Homo sapiens: one gene and its partner. The protein of the gene in region 1 purifies or fractionates together with the protein of each later gene. This does not show direct contact. Each region holds a gene or a part of one and is shown on either strand. Other genes may lie near its edges.

Region 1 (2,660 bases):
GGCTATGTATATATAGCCATTTATATTTTTTATATATTACCTACAAATTTATATATAAATATATATATTACAAATTTATATGTATACAAATGTCTATGTCTATATACACATATAGACATACACATAGACTGTGTCTATGTCTATATACACATATAGACATATAGACATTTGTATATATATAAAGTTGTTATATATGTCTGTTTGTGTGTACTTCTATCTATATGTGTATGTTTGTATGCTTATGATATAGCCTGAATCTTCTACATATTGTTTCAATTCATATAGCTTATCTTTTCATATCAAAAATTTTATTGTGCTTATCTGATTAAACAGAAATTACAAAACTGTTCCTGTCGTGTGAAATTTGTTGAGCATGCTTTACAAGACATAATGTTCAACTTGGCTTTCTTAAGACTGCAGGATTCCGAAATATCAGCACTATAGTAGTAGAACTATTATGACGATTGTTACTATTTTAATATTAAACATCAAATATTACCCTAGGCATATATAAAATCTTGTTGCATGGTGCTCAGGTGTAGCAGTCTTTTCCCTAAAGATTTGCTTTCAAAATTAATATGTAAGTTCCACAGGCCTTTATAACATCTTAAATGAGAATATTAATAATCTTTTGAGTTATTTACATTTTATTTTCTAGTACCAGATTCATGTTTTCTTGTCATTAAAGATGCTCTCAAATTAAAATAGGTTTTTATGAAAGCATTCTATATAAATTTTTTTTTAGAAAGAGGAGATAAATACAAATGTATTTTATGGATGTTTGAATAGAAATATCACATTTGAAAGCAAAGACGAAAATAAAGCCAATTCTAAATTTTTTAAATCTAGAATGAATTTTTACTATACACTCCTAAACTGTTCTAAAGTTCTTTTGAAATGAAGGAAATGCATGCTTAGTTAGTATTAAGATAGGATGATAACCATCCTGGTTTGCTCAGGATTGAGTTTCCCAGGATGACAGGACTTTCAGTGCAAAACTGGGAAGAGTCTAGACAAACTGGGATGGATTGGTCACTCTGTATTTATGAGCTAATCTTGATATCTTGAAATTATGAACATTTTTGCCTTATATAATGCCATTGGAATCATATTTTGTAAACCAACTAATAATTTGAACTGTTTCTTTTTCTTTCCAGATGCTGTCTATGTACTGTGCTACTCTTTGATTCTACTTTCCATTGACCTCACTAGCCCTCATGTGAAGAATAAAATGTCAAAAAGGGAATTTATTCGAAATACCCGTCGCGCTGCTCAAAATATTAGTGAAGATTTTGTAGGGCATCTTTATGACAATATCTACCTTATTGGCCATGTGGCTGCATAAAAAGCACAATTGCTAGGACTTCAGTTTTTACTTCAGACTAAAGCTACCCAAGGACTTAGCAGATATGGGGGTTACATCAGTGCTGGTCATTGTAGCCTGAGTATACAATCAAGCTTCAGTGTGCAACCTTTTTTTCTTTTGCCATTTTCTATTTTAGTAATTTCCTTGGGGAACTAAATAATTTTGCAGAATTTTTCCTAATTTTGTTTATCACGTTTTGCACAAAGCAGAGCCACTGTCTAACACAGCTGTTAACGAATGATAAACTGACATTATACTCTAAAAGATGGTGTATTTGTGCATTAGATTTGCCTGAAAAACTTTATCCATTTCCATTCTTTATACAAATACCATGTAATGTGTACATATTTAACTAAAGAGATTTATAGTCATAATTATTTTATTGTAAAGATTTTAACTAAAGTTTTTCCTTTTCTCTCAAACTGAGTTCTGAAATTTATTTGATTCTGATCTGAAACTATTGTCTTCGTAAAAGTTAGATCTGACTTCAGACAGAAACCAATACCAGCTTCCTTTTCCTTTAAACTTTGAAGAGTGTTGATTTGTTACTATATTACTATGCAAAACTGGCAGTTATTTTTATAATATAAATTTATAATTTGATTTTTTATTTTAAAAACTGGGTTAATCAAGTCTCGGTAAGTCCTTTAAACCATTTAGGATTTTTAAAACATCAAAATTTATGATTTACATTCATAGGAATAAAATAAAATATTATTAGAACTCTGGTAAATGTTTGCTTGCTTATATGTGGTGTGATTATGCAAACTTTACTATTTTTGTAATCTTGATGATCCCCGTTCAGAGTCCATTGAGAAAGACATATTGTGAAGAACAGTAAACACTCTTTACTCATTGGTTCAGTGAATGTCTATCCAGGGCTTTACATGTGTTAACATTGTGCGAGGTACTAGACATGGGCCCTGCTCTCACAGATAATACATAACTGGGTACTGAGAAGAAAAAATCTGCTGAATGGAGAGCAACTATATGAAGTATATCTTAATTAACAATTATTTAATAGTTAAAATATGCAGCATTAGAATGATAGAGAACAGTGTAGTTATATGGTAAGTTAAAAGTGACCTCCAAGTAAAAAGCATAACCTTAGGAATGAAATAGTATGTGATGGGTTGAGCTACTAGTTTAGAGGAGGGAGTTGAGGGAGGTAAAAACTCCTTACTAGAGGTATTGAATCCTGGCTTCCTTCCAGATCTGACCCTTAGTCAAAAGTGGTTGTCAATATTACAACTGGAATGTTGTACTACAGATTTTTCAAGGACAAGACATACGA
Region 2 (3,650 bases), on another chromosome or scaffold:
ACAGCTCTTGAAACATAGTAGGTACTCAGTTCTGACCATTAAAAAGTTCATCCTTATATTGAACTGAAAGCTTCTTTCCTTTCCTTCCTATCCTTTGGTTCAAGTTTTATCCTCCGGAGCAGCATAGTAACTAGTCTGTCTTCTCACAGCTCCCCCTCTCCTTACTGCAAATCAGCTTTTTGCAGTATTCGAAGACATCTATCATTTTGCCCTAAGTGTATATTTCATCAAGCTGAATAGTTTTATTCTGCTAGCTCTTCCTCCTGGACCTTCACTATCTTAATCCCTCTCCAGTTTAATGTGAGATACAGCCCAACCCTTGAAGCCACCATCTACCCAGGGCCTGTTTTTACACCAGCCTATAGTTCTAGTTTCTTGCTTTATCAGGATTATTCTTGGAACCTCAATGTATATGTGAAGCAAAGCAATGTTATACCAGAGTTGTTACTGAATCCTTAAGGCTGGTTAATAATTACCTCTTGCTTTATAGTGAATTATCACAATGTAGTGGCTTATGATAACACACATTTACTATGCCACTGTTTCTGTGGGTCAGATGAATGGGTCCTGGTTAGCTGGGTTCTCTGCTCAGTGTCTCCAAATTTGGCTAGGCATGTGATCTCATCTGAGGCTCAGGGTTCTCTTTCAGTCACTGGTTGTTGGTAGGATTCAGTTCCTTACAGATGTAGGACTGAGGTTCCTGTTTTCTTGCTGGCTGTTGGCCAGGGGTGTCTCTCTCAGCTCCTAGAGGCCACCTGTGTTTCCCTGCCACATGACTCTGTACACAACATGATAGTTTGCTTCTTTGAGGCCTGCGGGAAAGCAGCTGCTGCCACTTCAGATCTCTCTGACTTCTGTTTGATTTTCAACTCTTTTAAAATGGCTTACTTGATTAAGTCAGGCCCACCCATACTCAAGGGGAGGAGATTATATAGGGTATGCATACCAGGGAGGTGGGAATCTGGAAGACCATCTTAGAATTCTATTTAACAAATCTCTTGGGGCCTTAACATTCTCACATTATTCATATCATTTTTGAGAACACTTCATTCATATTTGTTGCATAAATACTATATACCAAGCACTGTTCTAGGTACAGGGAATGCTGATGGAATTTACATTCTGGTAGGGAAGACAGGCAGAAAGCACTTAGATATTTAATATGTCAGGTGGTGATAAGGACTAAAAAGAAATATTAAGAAGGTTAAGAAGACAGAGTGACAAGAGTGCTATTTTACATAGGTTGACCTCTTTGATAAGGAGACATTTGAACAGAGACAAGAATGAAGTACAGAAATGCACCATGTGGCTAGCTTGAGAAAGAGCATTCTAGGCAGAGGGAGGAGCAAATTTAGATGTGGGGAGGGGTATTATAGGCAATGAAGATAGGGGCAGGAAAGGTGGTCAGAGAAATAGCAAGGGCTGGATCATGTGAGTCCCTTGGATTTGGTTCTGAGTAAGATGAGAGGCTGCTGGAAGGTCCTGGGAAGAGGGATGTCATGAACTTACATTCTAAAATAATCACTTAGGGTCTGGATGTGGTGGCTCACATCTGTAATCCCAGCACTTTGGAAGGCCAAGGCAGAAGGATTGCTTAAGCCCAGGAGTTCAAGACCTGCCTGGACAACTTAATGAGACCCCATCTCTGCAAAAGGCAAAAAAATAAAAATTAGCTGGACGTGGTGGCACATGCCTATAGTCCCAGCTACTCAAGAGGTTGAACTAGGAGGATCGCTTGAGCCCAGTGGGTCAAGGCTGCAGTAAGTAGTGGTTGTGCCACTGCACTCTAGCCTGGGTGACAGAATAAGAACCTGTCTCAAAAAAAAAAATATTATTAAGCTGCTGTGTGGAGAATAGGCTCTAAGAAGGCAACAGGACAAGTTAGGAGGCTATTGCAGTTGTTCAGGTAGGAGATGATGGAGACTTAGACTGGAGTAATAGTGTGGAAAAGGTAACAATTGGATAGATTTTGGATGTATTTGGAAGGAAGATTTTATGCCTGAGCAACTTAAAAGAATGGAATTGGCATTTACTGAAGTGTCAAAGCCTAGTAGAGAAAAAGGTGTTTGTCTGTAAAATGTTTCAGTTTGGAATAATTTCAGATTTATAGAAAAGTTGCAAAGATAGTTCAAAGAATTCCCATATATCTTTCACCCAACTTCCTCTAATGTTAACGTCTTACATAACCAGACTGCCTTTGTTAAAACTAAGAAATTAGCACTGGTATAATCATATTAACTAAACTACAGATGTTATTCAGATTTCACCAGTTTTTCTGCCAATGTCCTTTTTCTGTTTGAGGACCCAATCCAGGATACCACGTTGCATTTAGTCATGTCTCCTGAGTCTCCTACCATCTCTGACAGTTTCTTCATCTTTCCTTTTTGGAAAAGATGTTTCTGCTCTTGTTTTATTTACTTCTTATTCAGGGAAGATTTTTGTTTAATTTGGTTAAATTTCTGTAATCCCAGTACTTTGGGAAACCGAGTCAAGAGGATCACCTGAGCCCAGGAGTTCAAGACCATCCTGGGCAACAGAGGTAGACCCCATCTCTACAAAAACTAACAAAAAAATCAGCCAGGTATAGTGGCACACGCTTGTGGTCCCAGCTACTCAGGATGCTGAGGTGGGAGGATCGCTTGGGCCCAGGAGTTTGAAGATGCAGTGAGCCACGATCATGCCACTGCACTCGAGCCTAAACTTTGGTGACGCCTGTAACTTTCACAGAAAGAGGTTGTGGAACAGACTAAATATCACTCATTTATTCCTTTATCCATGAATTTAACAAATATTTAATGGAGCACCTAGTATATGCCAGACACTGGAAATACTACACTCAGCAAGGTAGACAAAACTCTCCCTTCTCCTGAGCTTTCAGTCTCAGGGTGTTCTCTATTTCTTTTGACATTAAACTGAACAATCAGAAAGTAAATCTTAGGAGAGCCAATATTATGGAATATTACAGTGTGCGCTTTTGAGTCAGATAGTTTGACAAGTTTGAATTTTGACTTTTAAATTTCTAGTTGTGTGACCTTGGATAAATGATCTAACTACATGAAGCCAGTTTCTTCATCTGTAAAATGGTACCTATGTTATAGCATTTTTTTTTTTTTTTTTTTTTTTTTTGAGACGGAGTCTCACTCTGGAGTGCAGTGGTGCAATCTCGGCTCACTGCAACCTCCGCCCCCGGGTTCAAGAGATTCTCCTGCCTCATCCTCCTTGGATTACTACTGGGATTACAGCCACACTCCACCACGCCCAGCTAATTTTTGTATTCTTAGTAGAGATGGGGTTTCACCATGTTGGCCAGGATGGTCTTGATCTCCCGACCTCATGATCTGCCCGCCTTGGCCTCCCAAAGTGCTGGTATTACAGGTGTAAGCCACCGTGTCCAACCTGTTACAGCCTTTTTGAGAGGACTAAATAATAATATGTAATGTGCTTGCAATGTTGTATTTAAGGTTAATTTTATTCTTTTAACTTATTTAGACCTGAAAGCAAATAACAATAATATTATGAAATAAATGCAGTGCTAAAAGTATGTACTCAAAAAAGCATATACACACACTCACACTCAGTTTTGAGAGTATCTGGCTGTATTGAAATCTAGAAAGACTTTGCTGCAATTGTGTTTGAGGAAAAAAATCTGG

The links. Proteins that work in one complex are often made in the same cells at the same time.
Region 2: the proteins of FBXO8 (region 1) and NFX1 purify together in Homo sapiens (affinity purification with mass spectrometry, with the first as the bait; one large-scale study listed by BioGRID). This does not show direct contact.

Annotation. Positions count from the first base shown.
Region 1 is NC_000004.12:174,236,097-174,238,756, reverse strand, and holds the end of FBXO8 (F-box only protein 8), read left to right. Parts: intron 1-1,157; coding exon 1,158-1,345; 3' UTR 1,346-2,099; downstream 2,100-2,660. UniProt on the Homo sapiens protein: May promote guanine-nucleotide exchange on an ARF. Promotes the activation of ARF through replacement of GDP with GTP.
Region 2 is NC_000009.12:33,296,966-33,300,615, forward strand, and holds part of NFX1 (transcriptional repressor NF-X1), read left to right. Parts: intron 1-3,650. UniProt on the Homo sapiens protein: Binds to the X-box motif of MHC class II genes and represses their expression. May play an important role in regulating the duration of an inflammatory response by limiting the period in which MHC class II molecules are induced by interferon-gamma.